Homo sapiens: one gene and its partners. The protein of the gene in region 3 interacts with the protein of the main gene of each other region in a pairwise test. Each region holds a gene or a part of one and is shown on either strand. Other genes may lie near its edges.

Region 1 (3,500 bases), on a different chromosome or scaffold from region 3:
GCAAAATAAGGAAAGAGCAGCCACGTGCGTGTTCACAAGATGAGATGGCCAGTGCTTTTATAAAGGGAGCTTTGCCTACGCCCTTCTCTAAAATGCCAGAAGAAGAGCAAAAACAATGCTCCACTAACCAGGCTCAGAAAGGAACAGCAGAGGGTCGAGGTGACTTATGTTCCCATAAGAAAACAGTTTAAAAATATTTTCCAATTAATCCTAAGTATTTTATTAAAGAACAGCAACATTCTTAAATGATCTATTTACTATATGTGACAGAAAGACATGAAACAGAAAATATCAGGAAACAGAAAAACCCACTGAAAATGTAGTTATAAAAATTATATAGAAGTACTTTAAAAGAAGAAACTGTAACCATTCAACCATATGTATCTCAAAATATTTATTGTCTTTTATTAATTAAATAACTATAATACTACGTTTTCAGATGGCTCTGAAATGTGTTTTGTTTTGTTTTGAGACAGAGTTTCACTCTGTCACCCATACTGGAGTGCAGTGGCTCGATCTCGGCTCACTGCAACCTCTGCCTCCCAGGTTCAAGCAATTCTCCTGCCTCAGCCTCCCAAGTGGCTGGAATTACAGGACTCCACCATGCCCAGCTAATTTTTGTATTTTTAGTAGAGACGGGGTTTCGCCATGTTGGCCAGGCTGGTCTCGAACTCCTGATCTCAAGCGATCCGCCCACCTCAGCCTCCCAATGTGCTGGGATTACAGGCATGAGCCACCACGCCCAGCCCTGAAATATTTCAAAGCTTCTTTTTTATTCTGTTATTTGTACAGTCTTCCAAATCTCACTCCATTATAATAAACATAATTTAAATAAGTTTAATATAAATATAAAAATGCTAGCAGTATATTTTAAATTCAGTTTAATAAAGTAAAAGGTAAGCAGAAAAATTAAAATGTCTAAGTTTCTCTCTAATTTACTTGAATAATCATACAATATCTACACTGAAAAGGCCCTCCAAGATTGGCTCCAACAGCCAATCTTGTTCCCAACAGCACTAGAAGGAATTAAAGGCACAAGGAGGGTACCTGACTTGTCCCCAAAGTTGCTAAGGCCGCAGGGGTGGGCCTGAGGCTCGCCTGGCATGACACCCAGTGCAGCACACTTCCCAGGACATCCTTCTCCTCTGAGCACTCCTTCCCCAAGCTTCAGTGTTGCCACCTGCCTTTTCATTAGGTTTATCATTCAGAAAAGACTGAGACTGCTGCTGTTCAACCCCAAAGGAGAGAATACTGTAGAGATTTCACTGTAGGTGTGCTTCACCCACATTTCACAGCCAGTTCTACTGTACCTGAGATCTGAATGAAGGTGCTGAATACAATCCATTCAACTGAAGTGGTAAGTTCCCATTTAGTGGCCACCGCACAAAGTACAAGAAATAATTTTCATGTTTCATGGAAGAAGGTGAATGTGAACCATTTGCAACCCCCGTTAAAAACAAAATAACAAACGCAACAGAGACTATCTGTTGCTACCTTTAGTTTAGTACAGACTAAGTTAGCTTTGCAATACACAAATAGCAGGCATTATCTGACACATAAATACTGGCAGGGAAATTTTTTAGGCAGAACTAAGAGATACTTTTAAGACAGAATTCATGGTGGCTCACGCCTATAATCCCAGCAGCACTTTGGGAGGCCAAGGCAGGCGGATCACCTGAGGTCAGGAGTTTGACACCAGCCTGACCAACATGGACAAACCCTATCTCTACTAAAAATACAAAAAAATTAGCCGGGCATGGTGGTGGACACCTGTAATCCCAGCTACTCGGGAGGCTGAGACAGGAGAATCGCTTGACCCCTAGTAGACAGAGGTTCCGTCGCACTGAGATCGTGCCATTGCACTCCAACCTGGGCAACAAGAGCGAAATTCCATCTCGAAAAAATAAGAATTCATCATGAAACTTTATTTTTAAAACTAGACATTATCATAAGCTAATATGTAATTTAATAACCCTACAGGGAAGAATTTAGAATCAAATTCACACTAGAAGCTTGGCTATCTTTATAAAGTCACTCTGGACATGCTGTAATCATATCAAGAGCATACTCAATGTTACTGCCCCTATCTTAATAAAGTCCCTCCTGTGTAGTTGATACAAATACTCTTAGAGTCTCAACAGCATCATCAAATGGCATTAAATGCTCAATTATGCAGCATACTAATGTTGTACTAGGCACAGTAAAAAGAAAATAACATAAACCCACTACCAGAGGGGTCAAATAACTCTAAAACTTACTTAAGGACAAAATTATAAGCATCCATGTGTACAGAAAATAAGAGTGACTACAAGCCAAGAATTCGGAATCTTTCCATTACCAGCAGCTATAAACTGGAAATGACAGCAATGCAGGAAGAGAATCATTAGACAGTGATGACACAGGGGAGGCAAAAGCACACAGGCTGGACACAAAAACACTGAAAAATTCCGCAAATTTTTTAATTGCTGAATCTGAACTAGGTGAAAAACAGGAGGCTGCCAAGAAAGAAAAAATAACTGTTAACAGCAAAAGTAGATAAACAGGCAAAAGAGACAGCAATATGGTAGTTGGAACCTAATCCTAACTCTGCTTACCAGGTGACCTTGGGCAAGTCACCTCTATCTTTGAGTCTGAGGACTTCAGTATAAAACAAAAATCTGAATTAGATGAGTTCTGAGACCCCTTTTGGTTCCAACATGCTGAGTCCATAATGCAAACTAATTCTTATATAGTGTCATTGGGAATTATAACCTTTTTGATTTTCTAAAAGTATGTGAACACAAGTATAAGATGTATGGTATAGCATCCTTGGAAACAGGATGCCCATCTCAACCATACCCCATTCTGGGAAAGCACCCATTTTGTTTATATTATGTTAAAGGCAGCTTCTTACCACAGCGTGGTTCTTGAGGAGTTCCTTTCATAAACAGCATGCAGGGGGCAGCATGAGTCAATTTCTTCAAGCGAAGGTTGAGATCTTCTTTAAGATGTTCATTAGCGCTGGGTAGGAAGGAGCCACTAGATGCATGTCGCTGAACTTTTTTGGTCAACTCTGGGGCATGTGCACCATCTAATCGGTCGATTTTCTGAGAATTCTAAAGTTTAAAAAGTTATTTAGAATACATGCAGCATTCCATAATAATGACATTGTTATAGCAGATTTTTAAAGGGGACAACAGTATTACCGGAGATGTAAAAAAAGAAACCCTCATTGCCAATTGCCTGCACTGCATCTCAATTTTAGAAATACATAATTTTTTTCTTTTCTCAGAAACACACTGAGAAAACACTGCAACATCTCAAAGTCAAATCAGGTCAGTCTAACATAATACAAAAAAGACTGCCCCCACATTGGCTGGAATGAATCTATTACTAAGTATAAATGAGGTATTTGGGGAACTACGATGACACCCATGGGTGCCTGGAAGCACAGGTGTGCACCTGCTTCCTAAAAGTCATTCATCAAACCAGAACCAGCCAGAGATTCCATTATGTCCAGG
Region 2 (3,500 bases), on a different chromosome or scaffold from region 3:
GGCTGAGGCAGGAGAATCATGTCCAGAGGGTGGAGGATGCAGTGAGCAGAGATCACACCATTGCACTCCAGCCTAGGCACCTAGAGCAAAACTCCATCTCAAAAAAAACAAAATAAAAACTATCCACAAAAAAACAAGTCATATTCTTTATATCTATAAATATCAGTTTTATTAACGTAATAGGTCACAGAAGCTTTCACTTGGGATTAGAGTTATTTCTTATGACACAGCAGAGCTTCTTTAACGTATTATATTTTCAGTATAGAGAAAGGTAGAAAAGGGGGGCTGAGAAGAAACTAAAAACCAATAAAAACCAAGATTGACTGTCCTTGCAGAGATCATCAGGGAAACCTATCAGTGGCTGTTAACAGCCATCTGGGAGATAAACACAAACAACTAAAAACAAAGACTTTTAGAAAGCCTGAAGCTTCTATCAGGATGATTTGAGAGTAATCTTGGAAGTGGTAGGAATACTGGAACTGGAAATGAATAAACCAAAACCTACTAATGAACTTTATCGTATACCATGATTAGAAAAAAGCTATGAGAAAAAGCAGGAAGTCCAATATACCAATCAGGGTCCGTTAAACTCAATTTTAGCTTTTCCATTTCTTTTATAAACAGATCTAACTATTCAAAGGGATCAATATCTCATGACTTATATTCTTCCTTACGACATATTCCAAAAAACAAGAAAGTTTACTTCTCTAAGACTAGAACAGAACTCACCCTTATTCTGTAATTATTATATGTATCCACTGGGCCCTTTTATAAATGTAAGGTAGAATCTAGTGATCTTATTTTTCCTATATCTTGAAACACTTTACAATTTCATCAACATTCATCAGTTATTCTCAGCTATGCTTTAAATAAAGACTAAAATGGAACAGAGGAATGATGGCATCACCTAGAGGATACAACAGTGAAATAAACTGTTAATGTTCATACAGTTTCCTTACTGCATAGCCTGAGGTATCACATCTCTTTCAAAACAGTTCAAAAAGACCAAAGACACCATCCTTGTAGTCTGCTTTTAGCTACCGTTGACCAGTTGATAATTATGAATTTTTTTCACTCATAATTGCGAAGAGAAGAAAAATTTACAGAGGAAGGCCTTTCTAATTATTAGAGATATCAGACAACAGATGCAAAGAGTACTGATAAATGTGAAATTATCTTACAAAGCAAAACCTCAGACTATGAAGTCTGAGATGGTGACATCTTAGATGAATGTTCTCAATGTATTTCTCAAACGATGTATTTCTCAAACGATGTATTTCTCAAACATTGTTCTCAAACAATGTATTTCTAAGGAGAAGAGGGAAAGATGATGTGTATTCTCATCCAGTTAATGACTCAACTGAGACTCCATCATGCAAAATCCTCCAACAAGAACCCAGATCATCCTGGTTTGCTAAAAGGGTATATGACAGTATTCTTCCATCTTTTAAGATGTTTGTGGTCAGGCACGGTGGCTTACACCTATAATCCCAAAACTTTGGGGAGCCAAAGCAGGTCGACTGCTTGAGAGCTCAGGAGTTCAAGACCACCCTGGACAACATGATGAAACCCCATCTCTATCAAAAATACAAAAGAAATTAGCCAGGTGTCGTAGCGTGCACCTGTGGTGCCACCTACATGGAAGGCTAGGGTGGAAGGATTGCTGGAGCCTGGGAAGTTGAGACTGCAGTGAGCCAAGATTGTACCACTACACTCAACCCTGGGTGACAGAACGAGACCCTGTCCAGGGGGAAAAAAAAGGTAAAATAAAAATTGAAGATAAAATTTTAAGAAATGTTTGTGTGCCAAAATGTACTTCGTAAGTGGAAATGTCAAAAGCAGATGTGTATACAAAGGTAACTCGAAAAAGAAAGATAATGAAATGCAAAAATATTCAATAGATTAGTCAATCCAACTGACTAAATGTGCTAAAATTACAGCACAGAGATGGCTATCCCTTCTTCAATAGAATGAGATGTCATTAAAAGTTCCAAAGTATTCAAGGACTGCATTCTGATGATCCAACTGTAAGAATAACCAGAATAAGCTAGAATTTATTAGAGATATATTTTAAATCTGCTATCAATATTTATAAGATTGGTATGTTCTAGGTTCATGTATAACAGTGAGCAGTTAGTTACATTTAGAGAACTGCATTCATTGTAGATACATATATCATCAAAACCTGGAAAATATGAAAAAGTTAGATTTGCTATGTTTAAACCCTCACTAAAATGTCTAATAAGGCCATGCGTGGTGGGGCTCACGCCCGTAATCCGAGTACTCTGGGAGGCTGAGGTGGGCAGATCACTTTGGCTCCAGAGTTCGAGACCAGCCTGGACAACATGGTGAAACACCATCACTATGCAAAATACAAAAGTTAGCCAGGCATGGTGGCATGTGCCTGTAATCTCAGCTACTTGGGGGCCTGGGGTAGGGTGGAAGGATCTCTTGAGCCCAGGAAGTCAAGGCTGCAGTGAGTTGTGTTTGCTTCACTATACTCCAGCATGGAGTCAATAATGGCCTTTAAAAAAGTCTAATAATGGGGGGCACAGTGGCTCATGCCTGTAATCCCAGCACTTTTGGAGGCTGAGGCAGGAGGACTGCTTGAGCCCAGGAGTTTGAGACCAACCTGGACAACACAGGAAGATTTCGTCTCTATAAAAAAAATTTTTTTTTAATTAGCCAGGTGTGGTTGGTGCATGCCTCTAGTCCCAGCTACTTGGGAGGCTGAGGAAGGAGGATCACTTGAGACTGGGAGGTCAAGGCTGCAGTGAGCCATGATCATGCCACTATACTCTAAACTGGGTGACAGAGCGAGACCCTGTCTCAAAAAAAAAAAAGGTCCAATAACGACCTTACTACCCTTTCATTCTTTCTGCTACAAAATTATTTGGTAAACGATCAGTGATGACTGTTTTCCCAAGTATACTGAGGGTTACAAAAAGAATATTCTAGGCCGGGCGCGGTGGCTCACGCCTGTAATCCCAGCACTTTGGGAGGCCGAGGTGGGTGGATCACCTGAGGTCAGGAGTTCGAGACCAGCCTCAACATGGAGAAACCCTGTCTCTACTAAAAATACAAAATTAGCCAGGCGTGGTGGTGCATGCCTGTAATCCCAGCTACTCGGGAGGCTGAGGTAGGAGAATTGCTTGAACCTGGGAGGCGGAGGCTGCGGTGAGCTGAGATCGCGCCATTGCCCTCCAGCCTAGGCAACAAGAGCGAAACTGCATCTCAAAAAAAAAAAGAATATCCTAACAACCAAAAGAAGGTGCCCATTCGAGTAACTATCTCAGAGAGGCAGTTCGAATATCTCTTGTTAATGTGGGTAAATCAAGCCTCATTTGCTGAAAATGTTATGTCTTAAAACTACCTAACCCCCTTATTCTATTTTCACCAAAGCATAATCATTCATGAATCTGGCTTTCTAAATAAACCATCTCAACTGCCTGGAGGCTTTTCTCACTGAACGATGAAATGCTGAACTCCATTTTAAACTT
Region 3 (3,500 bases):
ATCCTCATATCAACATCATTAAGCCCATGATAGGATGTACTAAGAAGGATGTGACAATGTTTCTGTGGTATTCTTACCAAAAATGCATAAACTCAATATAGGCGTGAGAAAACATCCGACAAACTCACATTGAGGTACATACCACAGAGTAACTGATCAATACTCTTCAAAAACGTCAAGATCATGAAAAGTAAGGAAAGACCAGAGAACTGTTACAGACCACAGAAGTCTAAGGAGAAGTAACTAAATGCAATTTGGATTCTGGATAGGATCTAGAGTCAAGAAAAAGGACATAGTAGGAAAACTGGTGAAATTTGAATAAGGTCTCTAATTAATAGTATTATACCAACATAAATTTCCTAGTTTTGATAATTGCACTATCGTTATGTAAGATGTTCACATTAGGGAAAGCTGGGTAAGGGAAATATAGACGCTCTCTGTTCTTTCAGCAACTTTTCTCTAAGCCTAAAAGTTCAAAAAAAGGAAAAAGGAGGAGAAAATGTAGCAGAGGAGGGGGCGTGAGTCCTTCCTGCGGCCTGGCCATGGCCTCTTCCCACCTCTCCTCATCTTTGCAGGGTGCACGAACTTCAGTCCCTGAGTGAGATGCTGAAGGTGGAGGCCCATGACTCTGAGATTCTGTGCCTGGAGTATTCTAAGCCAGACACAGGTTAGGAGAATGCCCGGAATGGCACAGGGCTCCTCCAGTCCTGCCGGTGCCACTTATATCTGTCCCGGCTCTTGGACGTGGGGTCGGTAATCTTTGGATCATTGGTGTCTTTGCTGGTTTAGAGGAAGACAGCTCTGTCCTTGCTCCATGGTTCACATGGCTTGGGGATATGGGGCTCAGTTCCCTTGGGGCTCTTTGCCAGGCCCAGATAAGGGCTGTTCAGGGCACTCATGGGCTGATGGAGTTCTTTCATCCCCAGGTCTGAAACTGCTAGCATCGGCGAGCCGGGACCGGCTGATCCATGTGCTGGATGCCGGGCGGGAGTACAGCCTACAGCAGACGCTGGACGAACACTCATCCTCCATCACTGCTGTTAAGTTTGCAGGTGCGGGCAGGGTGAATGAGACACATCCTGCCACTCTCACCCCTGCTGCCATCTGCCTCCCACCTCCATGAGAAGGGTCTGCCCATTGTGGGGGAGTGTTGGACAGCAGCTGGGAGGCCTGGAGCTGGTTGGGAAGATAGGTGGAACAGAGACTCTCAGTGCTGGGACTTGAGCCAACCAGGTTGGACTGAGGATAAGGAGACAGGAAAACCTGGGTTTCCAGGTTTAATTTAGTTGGTTTTCCCTGGCATGTAGAGTAGCTTGATGGGGGATCTCATGGAGGGAAGGTGGGAGGCAGGCTGCTCCCATGTGGTGAGAACAGTGGGAACAGCTGGGCTTCCCTCCTTCATAGCCAGTGATGGGCAAGTCCGCATGATCAGCTGTGGAGCAGACAAGAGCATCTACTTCCGCACTGCGCAGAAGGTGAGGGCGCTGGGCTTTCCTGAGAGGGGCGGGACAGGGCGGGGTCTGCCATTCCCTGCCTAAGGTTACAAGAGGTGAAGGGAGGCGCAAGTAGGGCTCTTGGGGCCTGGTGAGGCATTTGGGTGTGGGCCTGCCCACATGCTCCACCCCTGCAGTCTGGAGATGGAGTGCAGTTCACACGGACACACCACGTGGTGCGGAAGACGACCCTCTATGACATGGATGTGGAGCCCAGCTGGAAGTACACGGCTATCGGCTGCCAGGACCGAAATATTCGGTGGGCGTCCCCTCCTCAGACTCTGCCCACATTCCTTCATCTCCCTACGGGGTCAGCTCTGTGCAGCTAAGTTCCCACATCTGTCGTTCTGTACAGGACTTTGTACCCCCTTGAGCCTACAGTACTTTGCTTCACCCAAGAGGTGGTAGCCTGTTTGCTGCTGGGGGTAGCTCCCAGAGAGTGTAGACTGGGAGTGAAAGCTGGCATTTCCATCCCCCAGGCGTGTTCCACCTTCACCGCCTCCTCATGAGAAAGAGACTATGTTTCTTACAGGATATTTAACATCAGCAGTGGAAAGCAGAAGAAGCTGTTTAAAGGGTCACAGGGTGAGGACGGCACACTCATTAAGGTAAGGACCCAGAGGGGGTACTGGACAGGGGCTCGGGGACAGAGTGGTGCTGGGTGGGAGGGACTGGTACTTCCCATGTCCTCCAGCTGCACACCCTGCTACTCCTCAGGTGCAGACAGACCCCTCAGGGATCTACATTGCCACCAGCTGTTCTGACAAGAATCTCTCCATTTTTGACTTCTCCTCAGGCGAGTGCGTGGCCACCATGTTTGGCCACTCAGGTGAGTGTAGCCTGAATCCCCGAGTAGAAGCTGATACCTGCGTAAACCTGAGTGAGTTCCACCCCTGGAACTTCACTCTTCTATTAGTTTCTTGGGACCCGCAGAGCTACCTATCCCTACCCTGCAGCCAACCCCCGTGTCCACTGTTGGGATGGAGAGGACTTGGTTGGGAATTTAAGGTGGCTTATAGACCGTATTCTTTGTTCTTCACAGAGATTGTCACTGGCATGAAATTTAGTAATGATTGTAAACATCTCATCTCTGTGTCTGGGGACAGGTGAGCAGAAGCCAGCTTCCCTGAGAGGCAGATTCTTACTCTGCCACAGCACCCTGCCCTCCCCTCTCTCCATTTCAGTGATGTCTCTGGGAAGTGGGGTTAACAGGGATAGCTTTTGGCTGTGCTTGACCTGAAGTGGAGGGTGGCTCTGGTCTCCTTGCCATCCATGGATAAGGGGAACGAATGGCGCTAGCCATTCTACCTGCCCCTCCTTCAGCCAACTGTGTGGCTTTACCCCAGCTGCATATTTGTGTGGCGCCTGAGCTCTGAGATGACCATCAGCATGAGGCAGCGTCTGGCCGAGTTGCGCCAGCGTCAGCGGGGCGGCAAGCAGCAAGGACCATCCTCTCCCCAAAGGGCTTCTGGACCCAACCGGTGAGAACAGAATGTGGGCAAGTGATGGGTGGGTGTGCAGATGGCTTGCTGGGACCTCACTGCACTTCCTCCATGCTTTGGGCCTGCCATTCAGCAACTCTGTCTCCCAAGACCTTACCTCTCACACAAGGATCCATGATGTCAGCCTCTTCCCCCTGTTGAGTCTCCTCTCCCCCTATTGAGTCTCATCTTCCCCTCATTGAGTCTCCTCTTCCTTCTTCCCCCACTGAGCCTCCTCTCCCCCTATTGAGTCTCCTCTCCCCATGCCCTTCCTTGTCTCGGACTCAGGCACCAGGCCCCATCAATGCTGTCTCCTGGACCGGCTCTCTCATCAGACAGTGACAAGGAGGGAGAAGATGAGGGGACTGAAGAAGAACTTCCAGCACTGCCCGTCCTTGCCAAGAGTACCAAGAAGGCACTGGGTCTGTGGCAGTTGGGTGTGGGGGCAGACAGGCCCTAGTTGGTATAATGGCTAGATATGGTTTTTCTGAGACTGTGGGGTGAGAGCAGTGTGAGCTGAGGAAAC

The links. The genes of interacting proteins can lie anywhere in the genome.
Region 1: the proteins of MAPKBP1 (region 3) and GLRX3 interact in binary tests that used the Homo sapiens proteins (3 or more experiments, as listed by UniProt).
Region 2: the proteins of MAPKBP1 (region 3) and FXR1 interact in a two-hybrid assay, tested with the Homo sapiens proteins (one large-scale study listed by BioGRID and IntAct).

The regions. Positions count from the first base shown.
Region 1 is NC_000010.11:130,160,391-130,163,890, reverse strand, and holds part of GLRX3 (glutaredoxin-3), read right to left. Parts: intron 3,096-3,500; coding exon 2,894-3,095; intron 1-2,893. UniProt on the Homo sapiens protein: Together with BOLA2, acts as a cytosolic iron-sulfur (Fe-S) cluster assembly factor that facilitates [2Fe-2S] cluster insertion into a subset of cytosolic proteins.
Region 2 is NC_000003.12:180,943,670-180,947,169, reverse strand, and holds part of FXR1 (RNA-binding protein FXR1), read right to left. Parts: intron 1-3,500. UniProt on the Homo sapiens protein: mRNA-binding protein that acts as a regulator of mRNAs translation and/or stability, and which is required for various processes, such as neurogenesis, muscle development and spermatogenesis.
Region 3 is NC_000015.10:41,815,984-41,819,483, forward strand, and holds part of MAPKBP1 (mitogen-activated protein kinase-binding protein 1), read left to right. Parts: intron 1-575; coding exon 576-667; intron 668-926; coding exon 927-1,052; intron 1,053-1,404; coding exon 1,405-1,475; intron 1,476-1,630; coding exon 1,631-1,752; intron 1,753-2,025; coding exon 2,026-2,101; intron 2,102-2,210; coding exon 2,211-2,322; intron 2,323-2,535; coding exon 2,536-2,599; intron 2,600-2,839; coding exon 2,840-2,974; intron 2,975-3,262; coding exon 3,263-3,396; intron 3,397-3,500. UniProt on the Homo sapiens protein: Negative regulator of NOD2 function. It down-regulates NOD2-induced processes such as activation of NF-kappa-B signaling, IL8 secretion and antibacterial response. Involved in JNK signaling pathway.